Linked DNA regions of Homo sapiens. The protein of the gene in region 3 purifies or fractionates together with the protein of the main gene of each other region. This does not show direct contact. Each region holds a gene or a part of one and is shown on either strand. Other genes may lie near its edges.

Region 1 (3,592 bases), on a different chromosome or scaffold from region 3:
CAGGTCTAGATGAGGGGTTCTCATTTTGGGCACTGTTGACAGTTGGGTCAGAGGATTCTTTGTTGTGGGACTCCCCTGTGTATTGTAGGATATTCAGCAGCGCCTCTGGTCTCTACCCACTAGATGCCAGTGACACTCCCTACCCCATGAGTCATGTCCATCAGAAATGTCTGCAGACATTGCCAGATGTGCCCTGGGGAGCAAAATCATCCTTTTCCTTCGCTATTGAGAACTGCTGGTCTAATACATGGCCTTAAACATAGTTGATACTTAATATAAAACAGCTTCCTAGCTGAGGCGGGTGGATGGCTTGAGCCCAGGAGTTTGAGACCAGCGTGGGCAACATGGCAAAACCCCATCTCTGTAAAATACAGGAAAAAAAAAATCAGCTGGTCATGGTGGCATGCGCCTGTAGTCCTAGCAACCTGGGAGGCTGAGGTGGGGGGATTGCTTGAGCCCGGGGAGGTCGAAGCTGCAGTGAGCCATGATCACACCACTGCATTCCAGCCTGGGTGACAGAGTGAGACACTGTCTCCAAAAAAAAACAAAATAAAAACCAAAAACAGCTTCTTTCTTGCACAAGCTCCTCGTTTTGGTTTCTGTGTAATGAGGAGAAGGAGATGTGTCTAGCTGTGGAGCCTTCCAATATTAATAACAATTTTTAATTTCTCACATTTACACAAGACTTTCTTGTCTGGTTTTTGTTTTTCTCTTTAGTAGAGACAGAGTCGGGTGGTCTCTAACTCCTAGGCTTAAGCGATCCTCCCGCCTTGGCTTCCCAAAGCACTGGGGTTACAAGTGTGAGTTACAACCAAAGCGCTGGGGTTACAAGTGTGAGTTACAGGAATAAGCCACAGCACCCAACCTACACAGGACCTTATCATCTCCAAAGCACTGTTGTGTCTATGACACTGTTTCTCACTCTACAGATAAGCAAACTAAGCCTCACAAAGGTTAAAAGACTTGTCTAAGACCATCACCCGCTTCTCCACCAGGCATCAGAGAAACATCCATGCCAGAAATTGTTTGAGAAACAACTGAGTTCTGGGCCTTCTTCAGATTAGTTATCAGGGTCTTTCGAAACTTCAATGGCATGCTCTTTGGTCCAGCAATCCCACTTTGAAAAATCTCACACAGAAATGCTCACACTTGCACTGACATAACATAAAAATGTCCATGGCAGAGCTTGCAACACTGGTATGGGAAGGGATTACAGTATATGCATTCATGTGGGAGAATGAGTAGATTTTAGATGAATGAGGTGGATCCACATTCCTGACCTTGAAAGGTTCCTGAGTCATATTATTTAGTGAAAAAGATAAAGTCACAGAATCAACATAGCCAGTATGATCCTATTTTTTTTTAAATGTAAATATGCATGAACATGGATAGTTAGGGAAGTGGGGAATTAAAAGGACCTAGATAGTATGTATGTATGAGAACATATTCCTGGGGGAAGAAGAAGAAAATAAATCTCCGCCAGCTTCCCATGCATTAAAAATGAGCAAAGTGGGCTGGCCACCTTGTCTCACGTCTGCGATCCCAGCACTTTGGGAGGCTGAGGCGGCAGAATCACTTGAGCCCAGGAGTTTGAGGCTGCAGTGAGTTGTGAGTGAGCCACTGCACTCCAACCTGGGCAACAAAGGGACACTGTAAATAATTAATCATAAGATAAAAATTAAAATGAATAGAGCACAACCCACAGAGGTTGAGAGACTTGCTAACACCAGAAGTTGCCAGTGGTGAAATTCAGCTTTGAGTTTGCTGATAGTTACGGGGCCAAGAGACAGGAATCTGAGGCTCATCTCAGCAGGCCAAGCCTCCTTCCTTACTGTGGGGAAATTCCTTCTCTGAGCACCTAGAGGGATCCTGGTGTCAGACTGACCTCACCTGAATCAGGCTTCCACCCACGTGATGACCTCAGGCCAGCCACTTTAACTCTCAGTGCCTCATTTCTCTAACTTTAAAATAGCTAAAAGGCAAAGGAAAAAACATGAAAGCCAAAAAAAAAAAAAAAGGTAGAAGGAGGAGGCAATAGTAGAACCTCTCTCATTGGGCCGCTGTGAGGATTACATAAAACCATGTGTTCCGACCCCCAGTACTTAGTAGGTGCTTAATTAACACGAGCCCTGGTCTCTCCTGCCTTTTTCTCTGCTTGCCTGCTCCTTGCCAGGATGCAGAAGACAAAAGCCTCAGAAAGGACAGTGGGGGCTCCTGAGGCCCCAAGAATGCTTAGCAGGCTGAATCAGTTGTCCTCACTTCTTCACTTTGCCCTCTGATCCACCATGACCACTCTGCTGCAGGAGCTTTTAACAGAAAGCCTGGGAGAGCATTCTGAGGGGGTCTGTGCTATAGCTCTTCCTCCCTGGGGTCTAACCATCCTTGCTTTCTCTAGACACTCCACACATTAAACTGTCTTGCCCGTTGCAGGGATGGGATGGCATCATGTGGCCTCTAATTACACATCCCTTCAATAATAAGATTGACTCTCCAAGGGCAAGTTTTCCTCCTCCTTCAAAAGCTATCTCACATTGCGTCTTTTACAGGTAGTCTTCCCCGACCCTCCCCCACCTCCAGCCAGGAAAACCATTTCTCCTCCTCCCAACTCCTGTCATCCACATCCTAGACTTCCTGGGTCTGCCACATCCTATTCTTCCTGGGTCCATCACATCCTAGATTTCTTGGGTCCATCACTGTTTGCTGGATTTCTTCCCAATCCATAATTGCCTGGAAGCAGCCATCACATCCATCACATTTATTCTTGTGTCTTAAATGCATAGCACACTTCCCTATGCACACAGTAGATATTCAAGGAGCATTGACTGAATGCAGAAAAGTATTTTTTAAATTGGGGTAAAATACACATAACATGAAATTGACCATTTTCATCATTTTATTTTTATGTATTTTTTTGGGGGGCAGGGGGAATCTTGCTCTGTCACCCAGGCTGGAGTGCAGTGGTGTGATCTCGGCTTACTGCAACCTCTGCCTCCTGGGTTCAGGCAATTCTGACTCAGCCTCCCAAGTAGCTGGGATTACATGTGTGGGCCACAACCACGCCCGGCTAATTTTTTTGTATTTTTAGTAGAGACGGGGTTTCACCATGTTGGCCAGGCTGGTCTTGAACTACTGACCTCAAGTGATCCGCCTGCCTCGGCTTCCCAAAGTGCTGGGATTACTGGCATGAGCCACTGCGCCCGACCTCCATTTTTTGATTATTATCATTGGGGTCACTGTGGCAGGTGTGAAGCAATACCACATTGTGGTTTTGATTTGCATTTCCCTAATGACTGATGGCATTGAGCATCTTATGTGTTTGTTGCTTATTTGTATATTATCTTCAGAGAAATGTCTACTCAAGTTCTTTGCCCATTTTTGAATTGAGTTGTCTTTTTGTCTTTTTGTTCTTGAGCTGTAAGAGTTCTTCTTTTCTCTTTTTCTTTTTCTTTTTATTTATCTATTTTTTTTTTTGAGACAGAGTCTCACCCTGTCTGTCACCCAAGCTGGAGTGCAGTGGCATGATCATAGCTTACTGCAGCCTTGACTTCCCAAGCTCAAACAATCCTTCTGCCTCAGTCTTCCAAGTAACTGG
Region 2 (8,054 bases), on a different chromosome or scaffold from region 3:
ATATATAAAAATAAAAATAAGGCCAGGCATGGTGGCTCACTCCTGTAATCCCAGCATTTTGGGATGCCAAGGCGTGTGAATTATTTGAGCCCAGGAATTTGAGATGAGCCTGGGCAATATGGCAAAACCCCACTTCTAAAAAAATATGAAAATTAGCCGGGTGCGGTGGCACACACCTGTAGTCCCAGCTACTCAGGAGGCTGAGGGAGGAGGATCGCTTGAGTCCAGGAGGTTGAGGCTACGGTGAGCTGTGATAGGGCCATGACACTCCAGCCTGGGCGACAGAGTGAGACCTGTCTCAAAAATAATACTAATAAAGATTATTTCATGCTGGATATATGTGTGGCTAGGTCTTCATCCTAGGTTCCCTTAGTGATAGAAGATACATTATTAACATTTTCTTGTGCCTCTCCATAATTTTAGGGTTGACTTTGATAAAGATTGTGAAGATCCTGAATATAAACCACTCCAAGGTCCCCCAAAGGACCAAGATGATGAGGTAAGGAATTCTCATTTGAGTCTCACTTTTCTCTATTACTAAATAGTTTTAAGTCTTCAACCATTCTCTGAATCTTGAAATATATTGGTTAATTTATAATACAAAATGGAAAATGAATTATACCATTTGAGAATAGAAAATATTAATGGAAAGGACTGTAATGCCAGTAGGGGGAGATCAGGGATAACTTTATGGAGGAGCTGGACACTGAAAGATATTATTTGACTAATAAATTCCTGACTTCTATTATCTTTGAGTCGTTAATAGGAACTGACCTTTCAGGTTCTACTTTCTTGTTCTTTTAGTTGATTGTTTCCAAGTTTTTGTGGGGATATATTTCTTTAGAAGTTTTTCTTGATCCCTTGGTGCCATAGAAGGACACACACAAGAAAGTGATTTCAGAGTGCCAACTTCCCCCCCTTTCCCTCCCCGCTCCATCCTATTGGGTGGATCTCCTTCTCTAGGGTGATCCCTTGATGATGATGGATGAGGAGATCTCAGTGATTGATGGAGATGAAGGTAAACTTCTAGGTCAACTAGTATAATTCTGTGTGGGGTGGTGGGTTGGGGAATTATTCACTGAATTCTGTCCTATCCTGGGATTTCTAAGAGCTTTGCCTTTGGGTGGGTTAAAATACTAGTATTGCCTCTACTACCCTTGCTATACTTCCTATTCATTCTACTTTGTTTTCCACAGCCCAGGTGACCCAACAGCCAGGCCATTTATTCTGGCCTCCGGGCTCTGCCCTAACAGCTAGGCTTCGGCGTCTAGTAACAGCGTATCAGCGCAGCTACAAGAGAGAACAAATGAAGATAGAGGCTGCAGAACGTGGGGACCGGCGAAGGCGGCGTTGTGAAGCAGCCTTCAAGCTGAAAGAAATTGCACGGCGGGAGAAACAACAACGGTAAAATATAGCTGGGAACTTGTGCTGATCTGTGTTTTCAGTTATGGTCCCTATACTGAAAGCCATCTCAGGAAGGATTTATTTGGAATTCTCTACAGAGGGACCATCTTTTCTGCCTTGGGTAGTTAAACCTGTAGAAATTAAAACCTCACTTGCATGCAGTAATCATTAACTCTCAGGTAGGTCTCCTGTGTAGACATTTTCATTGATATTTGTCTGTGTCTTTTCCCCCTTGGCTCTGTAATTCTTACTCATTACAGAGTACCTCTCACTACCTCTTCTGGGCCTTTTTTTTTTTTTTTTTTTGCGTCTACTTTCAATTTTTGTGTTTTCAGATATTCTAAAACACATTAAAAAATAACCAGTTTTCTTGTGTTCTTCTGATGTGTTCTTCTGATTATTGTTGCCCTACTTTTCCTTTTGTAGATGGACAAGGCGTGAACAAACTGATTTTTATCGAGTGGTGTCTACGTTTGGTGTGGAATATGACCCTGACACCATGCAGTTCCATTGGGATCGCTTCCGCACTTTTGCTCGACTAGACAAAAAGACAGATGAAAGCCTTACCAAGTACTTCCATGGCTTTGTGGCCATGTGCCGCCAAGTATGCCGCCTTCCCCCAGCAGCTGGAGATGGTAAGCAAGATTGCAGAGTGGGTGAGGATGGATGCCAACAGAAGCAACTCTGTTAATTTCTTCTACTCCTGTCTCTTGCAGAACCCCCCGACCCTAACCTGTTCATTGAGCCCATCACTGAGGAGAGAGCCTCACGGACTCTCTACCGTATAGAATTGCTTCGGCGCTTACGGGAACAAGTTTTATGCCACCCCCTTTTGGAAGATCGGCTGGCATTGTGTCAGCCTCCTGGTCCTGAATTGCCCAAATGGTGGGAGCCTGTTCGGCATGATGGGGAGCTTCTAAGAGGGGCAGCCCGCCATGGGGTGAGCCAAACAGACTGCAACATCATGCAGGACCCAGACTTCTCTTTTCTGGCTGCCCGTATGAATTATATGCAGAACCATCAAGCAGGAGCACCAGCTCCATCCTTGTCACGCTGCTCTACTCCACTGCTGCACCAGCAGTATACCTCACGCACTGCCTCACCACTGCCCCTGCGCCCAGATGCTCCTGTTGAAAAGTCACCCGAGGAGACAGCTACCCAGGTCCCCAGTCTGGAGAGTCTGACTTTAAAGCTAGAGCACGAGGTGGTGGCCAGGAGCCGACCAACCCCACAAGACTATGAGATGCGAGTATCCCCCTCTGATACTACCCCTCTGGTTTCCCGGAGTGTTCCACCAGTCAAACTGGAGGATGAGGATGATTCGGACTCTGAGCTGGACTTGAGCAAGCTGTCACCATCTTCTTCTTCTTCCTCATCCTCATCCAGCTCCAGCTCCAGCACTGATGAGAGTGAGGATGAGAAGGAAGAGAAGCTAAGTGAGTGCATGTGACAGGCTGTTGGCCCCCTTCCCTATTTCCCCCTCTCTTCTCTTTCCCTTTTCTAAATGCATCCTCTTGAGAGAGATTTGGATTTTGATTTGATAAAATGTCAAAAGAGTGCCATTCTTTGGGCCTTTATTCAAAGCCCATATAATACCATTACCATATGACATTATTCTTCCATCTTTTCTCACACATTCTATGGGCTCTCTTACCAGCTGACCAGTCCCGCTCAAAGCTCTATGATGAAGAGAGTCTCCTGTCCCTCACTATGTCCCAAGATGGATTCCCAAATGAAGATGGAGAACAAATGACCCCTGAGCTTCTGCTACTGCAGGAAAGACAAAGAGCCTCTGAGTGGCCCAAGGTAACAAACAGCCTCATCCCTGGACATGTAGAGTCCAGAAATACAGTGTAACAGTATATCCGGGGAAAAAGGAACATATGGTTCTGGATTTTTAAAATTGTGTTTATTGCTGCAAGTTTTTTTTTTTTTTTCCAGGAAACTTCCCAGTTGACTTAGGAATCTTAATAGTATTAACTTCCTCTTTTCTGCCTTATGATTTTTACCCATCCTGGTAGTGATGGCACTATTGAGTATCACAGGATCACACAGCTAGTACTCAGACTCTTAAAATGGTATTTCTTTCTTTCCCCATTCAGGATCGTGTCCTGATAAACCGTATTGACCTCGTCTGCCAGGCTGTACTCTCAGGGAAGTGGCCTTCTAGCCGTAGGAGCCAGGAAATGGTAACAGGAGGAATTTTGGGGCCAGGCAACCACTTGCTAGACAGTCCCTCATTGACTCCTGGAGAATATGGTGACTCTCCAGTCCCCACACCACGAAGTAGTAGTGCAGCTTCCATGGCAGAGGAGGAAGCATCTGCAGTCAGCACAGCGGCAGCCCAGTTCACCAAACTTCGCCGAGGCATGGATGAAAAGGAGTTTACAGTTCAAATCAAAGATGTAAGCTCAGCATTTGGGCATTGGGAAGTGGGGAAGGAGGCTGGAATCCTTGCTGTAACTAATTTTACTAATAGGTTACTAAACTCATTTGGTTAGCTAATTTTAAAAATGAGAAAACAGAGCTTACAAAGATCCATTTAGGAAGAATCATTTTTCCTGGTTGTTTTCCTTATTGAACCCTATTGATTATTAATCCTATTAATATTCAACAAAAGTTTCTTAAATTAGTATGCTTAGGAATAGCAGGATTTTGCCCCTGTGATGAGTTGCCATGCTAATACGGAGACACCAGGTAGGGAGTTTTACCCTAACTTGGGTGTTGTTGAAATAAACTCTTTCTCGTAAATGCTGAGGGGCACTAGGTGAAGAAGTGAAATCTTTCTAAGGAAAAAGTGTGTATGTTTTCTTGTATTTCTAATTTTACCCTTTAGTCAGATGGCCTTCCTTCTCACCATCATTGGGCAAGAGGATGACCTATAGCCCACATCCCTCAAAGCTTAATCTTTACTTTGAAAAACATGTACCATATGATGTCTTGGGTGGGTGGGTTGTCTTCCTAGGAGGAAGGATTGAAGTTAACATTCCAGAAGCACAAGTTGATGGCGAATGGAGTAATGGGAGATGGACATCCACTGTTTCATAAGAAGAAGGGGAACAGAAAGAAGCTAGTAGAGGTGAGTGGTAGAGAAAGTCTTTAACCTGACGATTAGATTGTCTTTTTATTCCCAATAATTGATGAAGGCAGTGGGACTGGGGGAATGGAAAATACTAGAGTCATTTCATGACTACCATTGGCCCTGCTCCCCCTCCCTCCCTCCCCCAAAGAAGAGTATGTGCTCATGGGGGTGGATTCTGGGTTTGCAGCTGGAGGTGGAGTGCATGGAAGAGCCTAATCACCTTGATGTGGACCTGGAGACCCGGATCCCTGTCATCAATAAGGTGGATGGTACTTTGCTGGTGGGTGAGGATGCCCCTCGCCGGGCTGAACTGGAGATGTGGTTACAGGGTCATCCAGAGTTTGCTGTTGATCCCCGATTTCTAGCGGTGAGTGGCAGTCCCATCCAGCAAGATTTAAAGTCATTCCTTTGGTATTTAAGCTGCATGAGAAAGAGAAAGCATGACATACTGTATCATCGTTTCTGTATCTGCAAGATAAGGGTAATAATTAATAATACCCAGTCTTCCAACCTCACAATTGTTGTGATGCCCAAAATAAAATAATGTTGAAGTACTTTAAGTGCTAGGCAAATATTTACTATTGAACTATTATATAAACCACCTAATATTTTTTGGAGAGATCCCACTTAATGGCAGTTTTCCACTAGGATGAATCCTTTATCTATGTAATAAGTGTTTATTATCAAACAAAAGACACTAGTACTTTAATAATTACTCCAGAGAAGATTTCTATTCCTCTAGGATAACTGATTTTTTCTATTGCAGTATATGGAGGATCGCAGAAAACAGAAGTGGCAAAGATGTAAAAAAAATAATAAGGCAGAATTGAACTGTTTGGGAATGGAACCAGTACAGACAGCTAACTCTAGAAATGGGAAAAAGGTGAGAGAAATTGCAGCATTACCACTCTATTCCCACACTAGATGTGAGATTACAAGTCTTTCAATGATGATTGTGACTAATGTTATTTATCTTTTTTCCTATGTTTGTTTGTGTGAAGAATTATCTTGAGTTCACCAATAAGGAAACCGGAGTTTTCTGGGGTTTTTTTTTTTTTTTTGAGACGGAGTCTCACTCTGCTGTCGTGCAGTGGCGCAATCTTGGCCTACTGCAACCTCCGCCCGCCGGGTTCAAGCAATTCTCGTGCATCAGCCTCCTGAGTAGCTGGGATTACAGGCACCTGCCACCGCGCCTGGCTAATTTTTGTATTTTTAGTAAAGATTGGGTTTCACCATCTTGGCCAGGCCGGTCTTGAACTCCTGACCTCGTGATCCACCCGCCTCGGCCTCCCAAAGTGTTGGGATTACAGGCCTGAGCCACACTGCACCTGGCCCAGAGTATTTTTATCAGTATTTTTGCAGTCCTGTGGTATCTTCATCTCTAGGAGAGCATAACATTCTAAAAACTAACTTTAGTACTTGATGCATATGAAAATTTAAGAATTAGTAAGATGGGTTAGAGAGAACATTCAGATCTTACTCTGTTCTTCTATTGAATAACTAAGGGATTTTGGACAAATCCTTTAACCTCTTCAGTTTTTACATCCTGAAAAGTGAGGGTTTTAAAGCAATTTCTTAAGTTTTCTGTTTTTTTGAGACATGGTCTCACTCTGTCACCCAAGCTGGAGTGCAGTGGCACCATCTCAGCTCACTGCAACTTCTCCCTCCCCTGGTTCAAGCCATTCTCCTGCCCAGCCTCTCAAGTAGCTGGGATTGCAGGCGTGCACCACCAGGCCAGGCTAATTCTTTGTATTTTTAGTAGGGACGAGGTTTCACCACGTTGGCCAAGCTGCTCTGGAACTCCTGGCCTCAAGTAATCCACCCGCCTTGGCCTTCTGAAGTACTGGGATTACAGGCTTCAGCCACCGCACTCGGCCTTAAGTTTTCTAATTCTATATATTTTAGAAGTGTTTGGAGAGGTCTTCTAAGGAAAATAGTCATGAGATTTCCCAATATATAAAGGTTGAGAATCACTAATAATATGTCAGTAATGGAAAAAGCAGAGGAAACTGTTTTGTAATTCATAATAAATTTGTCCATTAAGTTATTCTATATTTTCAAATTTACTTATACTTTTATGATGGATAATAGGCCATTTGGTGGACTAAGTACCCACAGTTTATTCTTTCCACCAAATTTCAACTGCAAAAGTTTCTCTTGGCTATGCTTACCTTACTTTCTGCAATAGTTGTATTTGTTTTTTAATCTTTTATTTTTTTGAGACAGAGTCTTGCCCTGTCACCCAGGCTGGAGGGCAGTGCCACAATCTCAGCTCACGGCAAGCTCTGCATCCCCGGTTCAAGTGATTCTCTTGCCTCAGCCTCCCAAGTAGCTGGGACCACTGGCGCATGCTACCATACCCAGCTAATTTTTGTATTTTTAATAGAAAGAAGGTTTTGCCATGTTGGCCAGACTGTTCTCAAACTCCCGACCTCAGGTGATCCACCTGCCTAAGCCTCCCGAAGTACTGGGATTACAGGCATGAGCCACTGTGCCTGGCCAATAGTTGTAATTTTTTTTTTTTTTTCCTGAGACGGAGTCTTGCTCTGTTGCCCAGGCTGGAGTGCAATGGACTGATCTCAGCTCACTGCAACCTTTACCTCCCAAGTTCAAGTGATTCTCCTGCCTCAGCCTCCCGAGTAGCTGGGATTACAGGTGTGTGCAACCATGCCCAGCTAATTTCTGTATTTTTAGTAGAGACGGGGTTTCACCATGTTGGTCAGGCTGGTCTCGAACTACTGACCTTGTGATCCACCCGCCTCAGCCTCCCAAAGTGTTGGGATTACAGGCGTGAGCCACAGCGCCTGGTCAATAGTTGTATTTTTAAAGCATACATAAATCATTGTTTTAAATGACATAGAGTCATTTAAAATGGATTAGCACTTGTATATACTTGCCTTATCTAATTATTCCCCCATTTGATCTTCTATAGAAATCTTTATACACATACAGTCATCCCTTGGTATCTGTGAGGGATTGGTTCCAGGACCCCTGCAGATACCAAAATCCATGGATGCTCGAGTCCTTTATATATAAAATGGTGTAGAGCCAGGTGCGGTGGCTCTTACCTGTAATCCCAGCACTTTGGGAGGCTGAGGCAAGAGGATCACTTGTGCCCAGGAGTTCAAGACCAGCCTGGGGACCCCAGTGGGACCTTATCTCTACAAAAAATTAGCTGGGCGTGGTAGTGCAGTCCTCTAGTATCAGCTATGTGGAAGCTGAGGCAGGAGGATCACTTGAGCCCAGAGGCTGAGACTACAGTGACCCATGATCATGCCACTGCACTCCAGCCTGGGCAATAGAGTGTGAGACCCTGCCTCAAAAAATAAATAAATAAATAAATAAAATCATGTAGTATTTCCATGTAACCGACACACTTCCTCTGATACACTTTAATCTCTTGATTACTTATAATACCTAACACAATATAAATACTATGTAAATAGTTGTTACACGGTATTGTTTTAAAATCTGTAGTATTTTCTCTTGTTATTTTTTAGTTTCTTGTTGTTTTCAAATATTTTCAATCCACAGATGGTTGAATCCATGGATATGGAAGGCTGACTAT
Region 3 (8,054 bases):
CAGAAATGTAGCTCCCAAAACCCCCTACCCAGGGCTGTGCAGAAGCCAAACCAGGTTCCTATTTTCCCAGGATGATGAACAGTTTTCAAAGCTTAGTAGGATTGTGGGTGATTTTGTCTCATTGTCTGTTGTTTTTCCATTTTTCTAGATCATATATATATAATATTTATACTATATATAATATGTATATAGTGTGTGTATATATATATATAATATGTATATATTAGGTCAAGTGTAAATAAAATCAGGGACAGGGTTGGAGCGCAGCAGGAAAGAGCCTGCTGGGGATCAGAGTCTCTGGGCTGTCAGGGCCGGGCTGGGCGGGCTCCGTTGTTAATGGCTTCCCCTCATCTTGCAGGAGCCATGTGGCTAGAAATCCTCCTCACTTCAGTGCTGGGCTTTGCCATCTACTGGTTCATCTCCCGGGACAAAGAGGAAACTTTGCCACTTGAAGATGGGTGGTGGGGGCCAGGCACGAGGTCCGCAGCCAGGGAGGACGACAGCATCCGCCCTTTCAAGGTGGAAACGTCAGATGAGGAGATCCACGTAAGGCACCTTGGGCCGGGCCGGGCTGGGCAGTGGAGAGGGTGGTGTGTCGAAGACAGGGGTTGGGTCTTAGGCCAGATGCGGGAGGGGACGGGGGCTTGGGAATGGTCCATCCTACTTGGGAGTGTGTTTCAGTCTGCTTTTCCTCTGCTGGGCAGGTGCAGGTTGCTTTGGAGAGGGATGCCCAGCCCTCCCACTTTCTCTCTTCTCCTTTCCCTACCCAAGGCCCAGCAGTGCTCAGGCAGGAGATGGGGTAACCTGTATCAAAGGTCACAGAAAGCAGCTGTCATCACCTCCTCTATGCCCTGCCTGAAGCCTTGGGAGTGAGGTTGTGGGAGAAAGTGAGCAGGTTCCCGTCAGAGACCCAGGAAGCACTGAGAAGGCAGGGATGCTACTGGTTAGGCACCGGCTGTGTGTCAGCCATTCCTGGTCACATTCAATCCCTACGGTGATCCCGCGGGGTGAGGATTGTTGTTCCCAAACTGCAGATGCAGAAGCTGAAGCTCAGGGGCATAAAGCAACTCGTTCAAGGCGGCCTAGCTAACATGCGGAAGGATTTGAAGTCCAATCTAATCCTGAAGCTGCTGCCCCTCCTCTGCACAGGGATAGAGTCAGGAAGGAGGTGACTGGGCAGGTGGGGTGAACTGAGAATGCATTCTCGGGGAGGAGCAAGGCTTGAGTGGGGGACAGGACGGTAGGCAGGCCTGGCATGGCCCTGCCAATCCTTTCTTTCATTCCGTGGGTTTTGAGCACCTACTGTGTGCAGGCCCAGTGAGTGCTTGGGAGAAGAGACAGCCCCTTCCGTCCAACAGCATACAGTCCAGTGAATGAGAAAAGGAATGTGCACAAAGAAAAGTAGACTAAAAGATAAATAAAGATAGGCTAGGTGCGGTGGCTCACGCTTTTAATCCCAGCACTTTAGGAGGCTGAGGCGGTGGATCACCTGAGGTCAGGAGTTCAAGACCAGCCTGGCCAACATCGTGAAACCCCGTCTCTACTAAAAATACAAAAAATTAGCCGGGCATAGTGGCGGGCACCTATAATAATCCCAGCTACTCGGGAGGCTGAGGCAGGAGAATCCCTTGAACCCAGGAGGCAGAGGCTGCAGTGAGCCAAGATCACACCACTGCACTCTAGCCTGGGCAACAAGAGTGAAATGCCATCTCAAAAAAAGAAACAGATGCATAAGGATAAATGTCACAAAAAGCATGGATAAAAGTCATGAGAGTTCCAAGGAGGAAGAGATTTAAAAGCAGAAGCTGGGCTAAACCCAAGAGCAACCAGGCTGAGGCTCCCTGGGTAGGACTTGCTTGCTGCAGCCTTGCTATTTAGGGCCAAGGCTGAGCCCTAAGGAAAGCTCCTTTAGGGAATTAGACTCCTAAGGGAGTCTGAGATTTCCAAAATCTGTTTGGGGGTAACTGAAACACTTGGGAAGAAGCCTGGGAATGGTGATGCTTGAGAGGCTCTCTAAGCTGACATGAACTTCCTCCCTCTGGGGCTGGCCTTTTAGCCTAATACATGCCAATGAGACTTGCACCCTCTCTCCTGGTCTGTAAATTTTTTAGTTTTTGGAGACAGGGTCTTGCTCTGTCACCAGGCTGGGGTGCAGTGGTGCGATCTTGGCTCACTGCAACCTCCGCCTCCTGGGTTCAAGCGATTCTCCTGCCTCAGCCTCCCAAGTAGCTGGCATTACAGGCACCTGTCACCATGCCTGGCTAATTTTTGTATTTTTAGTAGAGATGGGGTTTCGCCATGTTGGCCAGGCTGGTCTCGAACTCCTGACTTCAAGTGATCCACCTGCCTTGGCCTCCCAAAGCACTGGGATTACAGGCGTGAACCACCGTGCTGGGCCTGGCCTGTAATTTTTATCCCAACTCAGTTATAATGTATCATTCAATGTTGTATATCAGGGGTCAGGAAACCAGGCCCATAGACCAAATGTAGCCTGCTACCTGTTTTAGCACAGCGCCCATGCCAAGAATAGTGTTTACCTCTTTAAATAGTTAGGGGGAAAAAAATCAAAAGAAGAATAATAGTTTGTGACGTGAAAATTATATAGCAGTCAGATTTCAGTGTCCATAAATTTTTATTGGAACACAGCCACCCCCATTCATCTGTGCATTGGCTATGGCTGTCCATAAATAAAGTTTTATTGGAACACAGCCACCCCCATTCATCTGTGCATTGGCTGTGGCTGCTTTCACACTATGAAGACAGTGGAGTCACTGCAGCCTGCAAAGCCTAGAATATTTACTATCTGGCCCTTTACAGAAAAAGTTTGCCGACTCCCGCTGTAGAGACGCCTGGGTAAATTAAAGATGAGTATCGTGTATACACTTAAAGAGTAAAAGATGAGCTGGGCGCAGTGGCTTACACCTGTAATCCCACCACTTTGGGAGGCCAAGGCAGACAGATCACTTGAAGCCAGGAGTTCAAGACCAGCCTGGCCAACATGGCAAAACCCCGTCTCTACTAAAAATGCAAAAATTAGCCGGACATGGTGGCTCACACCTGTAATCCCAGCTACTCTGGGAGCTGAGGCATGACTGGCTTGAACCTGGGAGGTGGGGGTTGCAGTGGGCCGAGATCACGCCACTGCCCTCCAGCCTGGGCAACAGAGTGAGACCCTATCTCAAAAAAAAAAAAAGAAAAAAGAAAAAAGAAATGCGAAGTCTACAGTGAAGAAGGAAGAAGTGAAGAACACATCCGCTTTGGGAGTAGCCAGTGATGTGGGAAACTGCCTTGCCACTCCCAGAGGGCAGTATCTTGTGGCTGCAGGGTTTGCTGTGTTTTCTGGAAACAGACTTTGCTCTTGTGCTCTGTCCTTCCCATCCCTCTCAACTTGGGGTCCTGAATTTTGCTCCAGGACTTACACCAGAGGATCGATAAGTTCCGTTTCACCCCACCTTTGGAGGACAGCTGCTTCCACTATGGCTTCAACTCCAACTACCTGAAGAAAGTCATCTCCTACTGGCGGAATGAATTTGACTGGAAGAAGCAGGTGGAGATTCTCAACAGATACCCTCACTTCAAGACTAAGATTGAAGGTATGTTTGCAAAACGCCAGCCAGAGAGGGATGTATGTCATGAGAACAGCCTTCTTCCACAATGTGACTTACAGTCAGATAAAGTTGGAGAGATTCAGAACCCAATTATAGGTGACTGAGATGTACTTATACGTTGTAACCTTACTAAATGCAAAAATATTGCAGTCACAACAAATCTGTCCATCTTTAGAGCTAGGCAGGAACACATACATGCAATTTAAAAACCAAAGAAATGCACCATCCAGTCCAATGATGTGGCAATCTTTGAGAGGAAGGATGGAGATGAGATTTAGACCCAGGCCAAGTGGGGTGGCTCAGAACTGTAATCCCAGCACTTTGGGAGGCTGAGGTGGGTAGATCACGAGGTCAAGAGTTCAAGCAGCCTGGCCAAGATGGTGAAATCCCATCTCTACTAGAAATACAAAAAATAGCCAGGTGTGTTGGCAGGCAGCTGTAATCCCAGCTACTCTGGAGGCTGAAGCAGAGAATTGCTTGAAGCCAGGAGGCGGAGGTTGCAGTGAGCCAAGATCGCGCCACTGCACTCCAGCCTGGGCTCCATCTCAAAGAAAGAAAAGACTCTGCTCTCAGTTCTTTTGGATCTATACTCAGAAGTGGACTTGTTGGATCATACGGTAATTCTGCGTTTAATTTTCTGAGGAACCGCCATACTGCGTTCCGCAGCAGCTGCACCATTTTACTTTCCCACCCAACAATGCCTCAGAATCCCGATTCTCCAAATCCTTGCCAATATTTTTTTCCTTTCTTTTTTTCGGTAATGGTCATCCTAATGGGTATGAAATGGTATCACATTGTGGTTTTGAGTTGCATTTTCCTAATGATTACTGATGTTGAGCATTTTTTATGCGGTACTTATTGGATTCTTTGTAATTTCTCCGAAGAAATGTCTGTTCATGTCTTTTGTCCATTTTTTGGGTGTTTTATTAGGGTTTAGGAGTTCTCTATATATTCTGAATAAAATCTCTTATATTTGCAAATGTTTTCTCCCACTCTGTGGGTTGCCATACAATTAATCTTTTTCAGAGACAAGGTCTTGCTGTGTTGCTCAGGCTGGAGTGCAGCGGCTATTCACAGGCGTGATCATGGCTCACCACAGCCTCGAACTCCTGGGCTCAAGCAATCCTCTCGCCTCAGACCTCCTGAATAGCTGGTACTATAGGCGAGCACCACTGTGCCCAGCTTGTTAATTTTTTATATTGAAGAAATTGTACATGTTAGGAATCTTATTTTTAATGTTTTAAGATAATTTGGCCTTTTCAAGGAACAGTGAAGATTTTAATTTGTTAAAATTCTAGGAATTACTTAAAGTGTATGAAAGACATGTTGGTCAGTCAGATAAACTAAAGTTCCTAAAAAAAGGAAATTGAAATTATAGTGTTAACTGGGTGTGGTGGCATGCACCTGTAGTCCCAGCTACTCAGGAGGCTGAGGCAGGAGGATTGCTTGAGCCCAGGAATTCAAGGCTGCAGTGAGCTACAAGGACACCACTGCACTGGGTGACAGATCAAGACCCCATCTCTTAAAAAAAGAGAGAGAGGCTGGGCACGGTGGCGCACGCCTGTAATCCCAGCACTTTGGGAGGCTGAGGCAGGTGGATCACGAGGTCAGGAGGTTGAGACCATCGTAGCTAACACGGTGAAATCCTGTCTCTAATAAAAATACAAAAAATTAGCCAGGTGTGGTGGCGGGTGCCTGTAGTCCCAGCTACTCGGGAGGATGAGGCAGGAGAATGGCGTGAACCCAGGAGATGGAGCTTGTGGTGAGCTGAGATCACACCACTGCACTCCAGCCTGGGCGACAGAATGAGACTCTGTCTTTAAAAAAAAAAAAAAAAAACAGGCTGGGCGCCGTGGCTCACGCCTGTAATCCCAGCACTTTGGGAGGTCAAGGCGGGCAGATCACAAGGTCAGGAGATCGAGACCATCCTGGTCTAACTTGGTGAAACCCCGTCTCTACTAAAAATACAAAAAATTAGCCGGGCGTGGTGGCAGGCGCCTGTGGTCCCAGCTACTTGGGAGGCTGAGGCAGAAGAATAGCGTGAACCCGGAAGGCGGAGCTTGCAGTGAGCCCAGATTGCGCCACTGCACTCCAGCCTGGGTGACAGGGCAAGACTCTGTCTCAAAAAAAAAAAAAAGAAAAAAAAAAAAAGCCGGGTGCGGTGGCTCACACCTGTAATCCTAGCACTGTGGGAGGCCGAGGCGGGTGGATCCCAAGGTCAAGAGATCGAGACCATCCTGGCCAACATGGTGAAACCCCGTCTCTACTAAAAATACAAAAATTAGCTGGGCATGGTGGCACGTGCCTGTAGTTCCAGCTACTCGGGAGGCTGAGGCAAAAGAATTGCTTGAACCAGGGAGGCGGAGGTTGCAGTGAGCCGAGATCGCGCCACTGCACTCCAGCCTGGCAACAGAGCAAGACTCCATCTCAAAAAAAAAGGGAGAAAGGAAGGATGGACGGAAACCTCGACTTGGAGGTGCCAGGGCAGCAAACATCCTTGTTCTGATGCAAGCAGGCCAGGCCTGTGGGAGAATGAGCCAGAGAAAAGCTAAGTCAAATCCCAGTGGTGTGTGTCCTGGAACTAGAGCCCATCCTGGAGCTCAGCCAAGAACACTAAAAAAAAAAAAAAAAAAAATCTGGAATGATTTTTTGGATCAAATTTGGACTTCTCTTGAGTGTTGCTGTATTCTTTACAGTAATTTGATATCTTCTATTATGAGCCTAACAAGAGGATCCAAGCCACTTAATCCCAGCCAAACTGCTGTATGCAATTACCATAGGTTCCTGTTTGGATTCCTGGCACGAAATTGCCTGGCTTCCTTGAGTTTGACTTGGATCCCTGTGTTGTCCCAGCTCTTCAGTGTCCATCCAGCAGAAACTAACAGGGCGCCTGCTGTACCCAGGCATTCTGCTGGGGCTGGGGACGCATAGAGAGGACAGGGTCCCTCCTTCACAGCTCATAGGCTCTTCAGGGGCAATTCCAGCACATAGTGGCGGTGTTCTGAAGGAGGAGGCTCTGGGAGCTTCATGAGCCCCACAATCTTCCTTTGAATGTGAGGGAAGGCTTCCTGGAGGAGGTGGCATCTAAGCTGAAATGAGTGGGACTTTGCCAGGTGTGTGGGGAAGGTGGTCCAAGAAAGGGGAACAGCATGTTCAAAGGCCCAGAGGCAGGAGGCAGTAAAGGGCCCTTTCCATCCTGGCAGCTGCCAGCCTTACCCCACTGGACCCTTTCAGGGTTCTTCATGAGACTGGGTTTTTTTTAGAGACAGGGTCTCACTCTGTCAGCCAGGCTGGAGTGCAGTGGTGTGATCACAGTTCATTGCAGCCTCAATTTCCTGAGCTCAAGCGATCCTCCCACCTCAGCCTCTCAAGTAGCTGGGACCACAGGTATGCACCACCACACTAGGCTTTTTTTTTTTTTTTTTTTTTTCTTGAGACGGAGTCTCGCTCTGTCACCCAGGCTGGAGTGCAGTGACGCAATCTCGACTCACTGCAAGCTCCGCCTCCCAGGTTCACGCCATTCTCCTGCCTCAGCCTCCCGAGTAGCTGGGACTACAGGCGCCCGCCACCATGCCCAGCTAATTTTTTGTATTTTTAGTAGAGACGGGGTTTCACCGTGTTAGCCAGGATGATCTTGATCGCCTGACCTCGTGATCCACCTGCCTCAGCCTCCCAAAGTGCTGGGATTACAGGTATGAGCCACGGCACCCGGCCTTTGTTTTTTCTTTCCTTTTTTTTTTTTTTTACATTTTTAGTAGAGACAAGGTCTCACCATGTCACCCAGGCTGATCGCAAACTCCTGGGCTCAAGCAATTCTCCCACCTTGGCTTCCCAAAGTATCAGGATTATAGGTGTGAGCCACCACACCCAGCTGACATTGGGCATTTATGGTACAAAACCTCCCTCAGGTACAACGGCTCCAAAAGAGCCAGTTTCCAGCATTGAATTCATCGTGGACTTACCCATGTGTGGTTCTGGCACCCTGCCCGGGGCTGGAGGCCTGTTCTTGGCCTTGGTCCTTTAGAATAGGAGTAAATTTGGCAACATAGGAGGACACCCAGGATACATTGTTAAGTTAAAAAAAAAGAGATTCTAAAATAGAATGTATGTATGGTTCTATTTTTGTTAAAAGTTATGTTCTCTAAGTCTTTTTAAAAAGTTTGAACTGTCACAGCCAAGAAGGGTCTAAAGAGACATGACAGCTCAGTGGTGTGTGAGTCCTGGATGGGATCCTGGAACAGAAAATGGATATCAGGGGAAAAACTGAGGAAATCTGGCTCATATTTTGTTGTGTGTAGATACCAGCATTATCCAGGTTTTAAAAAGGAGAAAATCCTGGCCGGGTGTGGTGGCTCACGCCAGTAATCCCAACACTTTGAGAGGCCAAGGTGGGAGGATGGCTTGAGCCCAGTAGTTTGAGACCAGCCTGGGCAACATAGCGAGACC
Region 4 (8,054 bases), on a different chromosome or scaffold from region 3:
TTGAATTGCTTGGTTCATCTCTATCTGTTGAGGGTGATCAAAAAGGTAACTATATAAGCAAAGTATTTTGGTTAACATACCTCTGGCGAATTTTTATCCATGTCTGTTAAGTCTTTTGACAGAACTGAAAGAGCAACATCTTTTTGAAGATGCCAAAGTGTTGTAGAGTAGATCTCCATGCCTTCAACTCTATAATTCTCAATCCTTCTAACCTCTGAGAATATTCTTTCAGCCTGAAATAAAAAAAACTAGTAAGAGAAAACAAGTTGATACAATTTATATATATACACAGGGAAAGCCCTGGTCATTATCTTCACAGGATCTAAATGCTGCCTTGTATTATGGTTTTTATGTGAATGAGTATTAACACAAGGACAAATTCAGCAATCTACTATGGCAGGTCAAATAGTGATGTAACCATATTGACAGTCAACCTAGTATTTATATACAAGCCATGGTAAGAACATGAACTCTGAAAAGGAAATTTGAGTTTCTACCAAAAAGACCGAAGAGAAATCTATACAAAGCTACAATTCAAAAGAAAAGTCAATATTTCCTTCTCAAAAACCTCATTTCCAAGTTTTAATAATGGCATTACAGAATAACTCTTTTTTTTTTTTTTTTTTGAGATGGAGTCTCACTCTGTCGCCCAGGCTGGAGTGCAGTGGCGCAATCTCGGCTCACTGCAAGCTCCGCCTCCCGAGTTCACGCCCTTCTCCTGCCTCAGCCTCCCAAGCAGCTGGGACTACAGGCGCCTGCCACCACACCTGGCTAATTTTTTGTATTTTTTAGTAGAGACAGGGTTTCACCATGTTAGCCAGGATGGTCTCGATCTCCTGACCTTGTGATCCACCCGCCTCGGCCTCCCAAAGTGCTGGGATTACAGGCATGAGCCACCACACCTGGCCAGAATAACTCTTTTAGGAAAGATGATGGAAGAATGATTTCTGTAACATAAAATCTATTTTTGAACAATTTTTACCGAGAGGTTGTGCCAGAAAATTTAGAGGGAAGAAACAGGTTAAGCTGGCTATCAATCCTATGGTTATAAATCCTATTGAGCCCTGAATATACACACCAATATTGTGTCTGCTAGGAATCATAGGCCCTACCTATTAATTATCCTTTCCTTTGCAGCACTCTCTTGACTTCAGGGTCTCTCCTCAGCTGCCTCATCAATTTTTTTCCTCATCACATTCACAGCTCCCAGAACTGTGTTTCTCTCCCTCTAAAGTTTGAGGATTTAGGTTATATAAAATCAGTTTCCTAGTTTATCAATTTACCAAGTTCAAAATTCTCAGCTGCCAGAAAAGGTCTAGGTAATAAAAAAAAAAAGAAAGGAAAAGAAATTTTCACAGTTTAGTTTATAATAAGGAATATCTGGACTATTCTTAATGAAATGAGTATGACAGAAAATAAGAGCATTTTAAAACTGAGTGCTTAATTCCAAGAAGTGGTCATATGATATATAGGAATAGCTTAACGATTTGTAACTTCCTTGCAATCTCTTAAAAGTTATAAAGGTAAGTGTGCAGCCTTGACCTGCAGGGCTCAAGTGATCCTTCCACTTCAGCCTCCCAAGTAGCTGGGACCACAGGTGAGTGCCACCACACCCAGCTAATTTTTTCATTTTTTTGTAGAGACAGGGTCTCACCACATTGGCCAGGTTGGTCTCCAACTCCTGAGCTCAAGTGATCCCCCTTCCTTGGCCTCCCAAAGTGCTGGTATTATAGGCATGAGCCACCACACCTGGCCAAGTTTTTCATTCAGGCATGGTAACAAGATAAAAGACCTACCAGCCAAATATAGGTAGGTACCTTTTGGTTTCAAAGTTTTCAGAATCTGTTGCTTCCTCTGAAAAATGATTATGGCATAGACAAAAAGAAAAATGGGAAAAAAACTCAGAAATTAAGTTGAAACAGAGGCTTTCTTTAATTAAATATTTGGGTCACCACTATAACTAGGGGAAACAATAAAATTCATTTATGTTAAAGTAGCTGTGAAACAATAAATTAGAAATAATTTTTTAAATGGCTTTTCCGAACACAGCTCTTGCCTGTCTGTGTATATGCTACATACCAGTAAAGGACCATAATCGAAACATGGGTTTTGTAGCAATGAATAAGACTTTCTGTCTTCAACTCTCTGTTCTGTACTATTCAAAATTAAATTATATGAATAGGTATCCTCTGTATGTATTCCCTGTGGGAAAGAACACCTTTCCCCTAGATCTTTGCATGGATCATGAAGGGAAGAGTAACCTTCCCTCTGAGTACATAAAAACAAAAACACCATACTTCATTGTCTCCCAGTTTCCTCACCATGCTTCATTTTTCTTCATGACTTATTGCTACCTGTTCTTATACATTTATTGGCTTATAATCTGTCTGTTGCTAGAATGTAAGCTCCACAGAGGCAAGAAATTGTCTGACTAGCTGTAATACAGAGTCTAGAAGAGAGTCCAGGATATCATATGCACAGAGATATATATTGAATAAATGAACTGAAAGCAAATTAAGCAAAAAACGAATCATATCAACTTTAATCCATATTAGAGATATTTTATTAATATATAGGTTTCTAAAAGGTTTCTTTTTTTAAGTTGGGGGTGGAGAAAATGCTTTGGGAAGAACTAAGGGGTAATATAAATTGGGAATTAGAATTTTCTTTGGCTTTAGGTTAATCATTCTCTCCTTTTCTGGTATAGACAGATAACTTAAGCAACAAATTTAATTAAAATCCAAAGAGTAAAAAGCCTTGTATTAAAGACATTGTGTCCTCAATTCAGCACAATTTTCTTTATAGCATTCTTCAAGCTTATAAAACATATTCGATGTCAAAAATTCACCCCAGTAATTAACTCTGTATATTGCAGAAAAATAAATAAATCCTATTACATGGTAAATATAAATATGTATTTTCAGACACAACTGAATAGGACACACTCTACGTAAGAATGTCTGGATGACTTGGGTCTCTATAAACCTATTCCGAGAAGTTGCAAAGAATTTAAATTACTCCTTAACACAAGAAAGAACTATATCTATAAATTATAAATACTGACAAAATAAATATATAGACATTACATAATAAATACTGATCTTTTAGATCTAGCCTTCTTAAGCATGGGCATTTATTTTAATGAAATTGAAATTATCTCTAGAAAGGCATATATAACCATTTTCTATACTTACTTGCATGTACTCTGAAAGTTCAAAATAGGCCCTTCCAATTTGGCACAGTACCCAACCAGTATTGTAGTGGTGAGAAGGTAGATGGCTCAAAATATTTATAGCTTCTTTGCAGTTGTATGAACACAAAGCTAAATAACCTTTCCCCATTTCACGAAGAAGGCTCATCAAACCTTCTAGGAGAAAACAACATAGTAAACAAAGGAAAAAACGCAATAAACTAGTCTGCTTCTCTAGAAAAGGTAATTACAAACTAATCTATTAAAAATTCCAACATCTATATAAAAAACAATGAAGGTACTGTAATGAACATAAAGAAATTTACTTAAAATAAGTACATAATAAAATACAAAGATAATATTAAGCATTTAAAACAGACCTGCTGCTGCTTTTTGTAGATTAAAGGCCTGAATCTGAGGTGTGATTGTGGATATTTTCCCTTCTGAAATGATGGAAGAGTCCAATTTTGTAATTTCCAGGCTATCATTTATGTTAGGTTGAGTTATTCCTCCTTTATTAGTTTTACTTTTTGTTTTTCTGTTTGGGATTTTAGGTGGAAACTTCATTTTTAATTTTTTGCTATTCTCCTGTAAAAGGGAAGAAATTTCACACCTGTTATACTCATGTATTTTAGATTTCTCCTCAGCCCTTTCTCCAGTATTAGATATAAAATAAATGTACAATCTTGATTAATTCTATATTTTTTTCAGAAGAGAGTTTATAAAAACAAAGGTCTTCAAAGTCATTTAATTTTAAACACAGTAATTCTGAACATAAATTACATTAACTAATAGTGACTAAGGTGTGTCAGCATTAAGTGTAGCCCTCTTGTGAAAGTATATCAAACTCTCATTTATTATTTAAAAGTAAGAAAATAAGTAGATGTAATTCTCAGCTCACCGCAACCCAACCTCTGCCTCCCGGGTTCAAGCGATTCTCCTGCTTCAGCCTCCCGCGTAACTGAGATTACAGGCATGAGCCACCACGCCCGGTTAATTTTTATTTTGGAAGAGACTGGATTTCTCCACGTTGGTCAGGCTGGTCTCGAACTCCTGACCTTAGGTGATCTGCCTGCCTTGGCCTCCCAAAGTGCTGGGATTACAGGCATGAGCCACCGTGCCCGGCCTTTGTTTTGTTTTTGGGACAGGATCTTATTCTGTTGCCCGTGCTGGAGTGTAATGATGTAATCAGAGCTCACCACAGCCTTGACCTCCCCAGGCTCAAGTGATTCTCCCACCACAGCCTCCCAAGCAGCTGGGATCAAAGAGTACTACCATCCCAGCTAATTTTTTTTTTCAGAGATGGGGTCTTGCTATGTTGACCAGGCTGGTCTCAAACTCCTAAGCTCAAGTGATCGGCCCACCTTGGCCTCCCAAAGTGCTAGGATTACAGGCGTGAGCCACTGCGTCCGCCGGGTCTCCAGTTTTTTTTAACTTTTATTTTCAAATAATTTTAGACTCACTCTTCTGCAAATGATAACATGTGACATAACCATAGTATATCATCATACCCAGGAAACTGAAATTAGTACAATATTATCAGCTAAAGACCTTACATGGATTTCATCAGTTTTTATATAAACCCGTGTGTGTGTATGTGTGTGCATAGTTCTATAAAATTTTATCACGTGAATGGATCTGTGTAATCAACCACCACAATCAGGATACAGGACTGTTGTACCACCACAATGCAATTCTTTTGTGCCATGATTTAATAGTAACATCCTCCCTAGAGGCCTAACTCCTAATAATCACTGATCTGTTGTCCATTCCTATAATTTTGCCATTTCAAGATTATTCCTATGTCATTTTTAACTTGAGAAAAAAAATTTTTTAATTAAAAAAGAATATTATATAATATTTACCAAAGGACTAATTAACTTCACAAAAATCATAGATGGCCCTCTAAATTAAAACATTTTAAAATTCGAAATAGTCTCTTTGTTAACTTATTAGGAATGGAGTCATCAATGAACAGAAATGTTAGCAGGCGAAGCATTAAGTAAATGTGACATACAGAAATCTTTAAATTACCTTGGTTGTGGAGCTGTCACTAGTAAAGAGTCGTGAACTTCTTCGAGGCAGTGCGTTTGGGGGAGATGTAATAGTGGGGCTCAATACCTGAGGTGTTGTACTAAAAAAAAATTATAAAGGAAGACATTAATATTTTACTTGATTTATGACCATTAACCATTGTTTCAATTTGGGTATATTTTAAAAATATACATTAATTATATAAGTACTCTAAAGTTGATGAATTTGATCAGTTCTTTTCGTGGTTTCTCTATGAAAACACAGTATTTAAAAATGAGGGACTCGGACTGGCTTTCCTGCTTCTCAGCTTGCAGATGGCCTCTTGTGGGACTTCACCTTGTGATCATAAGTCAATAATCCTTAATAAACTTTCCTTCATATAAAAAAATAAAAATAAAATGACTCGTTACTACAAAATAGTAAAGATTATAGCATAGATCTTCACTCTCTCTGAAATTCTTAATTTGAACTAAAAATAATCCTCATAAAACTCTGGATCGACAAATGATAAGCACATCTATAAATCAATTATTTTTACCCTTCATTTGCAACTACAACAAGTTAGAGAAAAAAGAAAAGACAGTTGGGCAAAGATAGTCTAAATGTGGGGTATTTGTTAACAAGTAAATACCACTAGAACTACTAATATTTGAGAAGTTATTTCCCTGTAAATTCAAACAGCTATATCAAAGGCTTATTCTCTTTAGAGCGAAAGGAGCCTCTGTACATTTTTACTTTAAAGGCAAACCCTGAGATATGAGAATTTCAATCTTAGCAAGCAAACTTAAAATCTGAAACAATCTAGAATTGACAGTGGGTAAACTTGTGGACTAAACTATCTAAACTTTATAATTTATGGGAAATCCTACTAGCTACCTGAGTCTGGGTCAAAGAATTTCAGAAAATAAAAAGATATATATTTTCATCTTTTACGATATGTACATATGTAATATGTACAGATACCTCTGTATATGCATGTGTGTGTATATCACACACACACACACACACACATAAATCCTTTTAATCTGCATCTGATAAACTAGGAGTTTGATAACGAAAGGCTTCCAAAGTTCAGAATTAGACTTCACTTCATATGGAGCAAATGACACACAACCTTTCTTGGATGATTTAGCTAAAAGTACTATGCCATTCTAATCATCTCTAAAAAAACTTTCTAAATAGAAAGAACAGACTTCCGCTAGTCATGACAGAGTAAAATGGAATAAATTTATTCTCCCATTTCAGATAACTACAAACTGAACCAAATATATGGAACAATGGTTTTCAGACACTGGACAATAGGCAAAACATTTCCGAGGACAGTTCTAGGGCCACCTTGCAGGAAAAAAGAATGCAAAATAGAGCTCAGTGGTCCCACTGTGTTGAAAAGAAAATGTTGAGAATTTGAGAAAGCCAAAGCAGCCAGAATTTGCAAGGCAGAGCACCAGAGAGAAGAGAGCTACAAAGAGGAGACCTACAAAGATCTGCAGAGGGCTTCCCTAGAGTCTTCAGTTGAAAATTGATCAGTGTAGGTGTTTGAGTGTTATATAATAAAGAATTTGTCTGGTCCACGTCCCAGGCTCCTGAGATCTACTAAGTCCTTGGAATTCCTCAAGTGACAGGGATGTCTTTGTTATTCATTATGAGCTCCTGGGACCGTGCCTGAATTTATGCTAATGAAGTAACTCCTAGATACTTTCTGGATGGGTGCTGGCTGTGCTGTAAAGGTCAACCATGTGGCCGGGCATGGTGGCTCACACATGTAATCCCAGCACTTTGGCAGGCCAAGGCAGGCGGATCACGAGGTCAAGAGATCGAGATCATCCTGGCCAACATGGTGGAACCCCATCTCTACTAAAAATACAAAAATTAGCTGGGCATGATGGCGGGTGCCTGTAATCCCAGCCACTCGCGGGTTCAAGTGTAATCACTTGAACCCGGGAGGTGGAGGTTGCAGTGAGCCAAGATCGTGCCATTGCATTGCAGCCTGGGCGACAACAGCGAAACTCTGTCTCAAAAAAAAAAAAGTCAACCATGTGATTAGAGGGCTGGGGCTTTGAGCCAGCAACACCAGCCTGAGCTCCTCTGGGAAGGAAATTGAGTTCAATCATGTGGCCAATGATTCCATCAATCACACCTACATAATTTAAAAACCCTAATAAAAATTTTGAACACCAAAACTTGGCTCAAATTCCTGGTTTGTAAACATACTGATGCATTGGGAGGGTGAGCCCAGAAAGAAGACATGAAAGCTCTGTATCAGGACCCTCCCATATCTAATCCTATGGATCTCCTAATTATGTCATCTACAATAAAACTGTAATCATTAAGTATAGCACTTTCCTGGACTCTGTGAGGTGCTCTAGCAAATTACTGAATGTAAGAGGGTAGTAGGAATCCTTAAATTTGTAGCCAGTTGGTCAGAAATGTGGGTGGCCTGGGGAACCCAGAACCTACAACTGGGCAGTTCAGACAGTTCTTGTTGGGGACTGTGATCTTAACCTGTGGTGTCTGTGCTAAGTTTGGGTAGTTAGCATCAGAATTACATTATAGTACTATAGTGAAGAAACTACCCAAAGCTGGGGAAAGTATTACTGAAAAGAAGCAGACAGAATAATTACTGGATCTCACTCCAAGCTGGGAATAGCTCATACTTTCAATAGGCAGAGTGAAGAAACCTCATACTAAACAGGTTTTTGAGGAGAGTACTCAAAGGGTACTTCCTCAATGGTGGGACAAGATTAGTCCAGACTAAGGCTACTTTTGTCTGGACAAAATTTAAAAGGTAAGACCTGAAGGGATCAAGCTGTTTCCAAGCAACTTTACTGCA

Evidence for each region.
Region 1: the proteins of EPHX1 (region 3) and ABAT purify together in Homo sapiens (affinity purification with mass spectrometry; one large-scale study listed by BioGRID and IntAct). This does not show direct contact.
Region 2: the proteins of EPHX1 (region 3) and CHD8 fractionate together in Homo sapiens (co-fractionation; one large-scale study listed by BioGRID). This does not show direct contact.
Region 4: the proteins of EPHX1 (region 3) and CDC27 fractionate together in Homo sapiens (co-fractionation; one large-scale study listed by BioGRID). This does not show direct contact.

What each region holds. Positions count from the first base shown.
Region 1 is NC_000016.10:8,677,525-8,681,116, forward strand, and holds part of ABAT (4-aminobutyrate aminotransferase, mitochondrial isoform 1 precursor), read left to right. Parts: intron 1-3,592. UniProt on the Homo sapiens protein: Catalyzes the conversion of gamma-aminobutyrate and L-beta-aminoisobutyrate to succinate semialdehyde and methylmalonate semialdehyde, respectively. Can also convert delta-aminovalerate and beta-alanine.
Region 2 is NC_000014.9:21,388,262-21,396,315, reverse strand, and holds part of CHD8 (chromodomain-helicase-DNA-binding protein 8), read left to right. Parts: intron 1-423; coding exon 424-499; intron 500-963; coding exon 964-1,018; intron 1,019-1,196; coding exon 1,197-1,404; intron 1,405-1,830; coding exon 1,831-2,039; intron 2,040-2,120; coding exon 2,121-2,840; intron 2,841-3,061; coding exon 3,062-3,210; intron 3,211-3,506; coding exon 3,507-3,809; intron 3,810-4,062; exon of another isoform or gene 4,063-4,165; intron 4,166-4,369; coding exon 4,370-4,483; intron 4,484-4,509; exon of another isoform or gene 4,510-4,673; coding exon 4,674-4,853; exon of another isoform or gene 4,854-4,906; intron 4,907-5,252; coding exon 5,253-5,369; intron 5,370-8,054. UniProt on the Homo sapiens protein: ATP-dependent chromatin-remodeling factor, it slides nucleosomes along DNA; nucleosome sliding requires ATP. Acts as a transcription repressor by remodeling chromatin structure and recruiting histone H1 to target genes.
Region 3 is NC_000001.11:225,828,367-225,836,420, forward strand, and holds part of EPHX1 (epoxide hydrolase 1), read left to right. Parts: intron 1-358; 5' UTR 359-363; coding exon 364-546; intron 547-3,412; coding exon 3,413-3,593; intron 3,594-8,054. UniProt on the Homo sapiens protein: Biotransformation enzyme that catalyzes the hydrolysis of arene and aliphatic epoxides to less reactive and more water soluble dihydrodiols by the trans addition of water.
Region 4 is NC_000017.11:47,138,659-47,146,712, forward strand, and holds part of CDC27 (cell division cycle protein 27 homolog), read right to left. Parts: intron 5,325-8,054; coding exon 5,225-5,324; intron 3,779-5,224; coding exon 3,571-3,778; intron 3,368-3,570; coding exon 3,195-3,367; intron 234-3,194; coding exon 81-233; intron 1-80. UniProt on the Homo sapiens protein: Component of the anaphase promoting complex/cyclosome (APC/C), a cell cycle-regulated E3 ubiquitin ligase that controls progression through mitosis and the G1 phase of the cell cycle.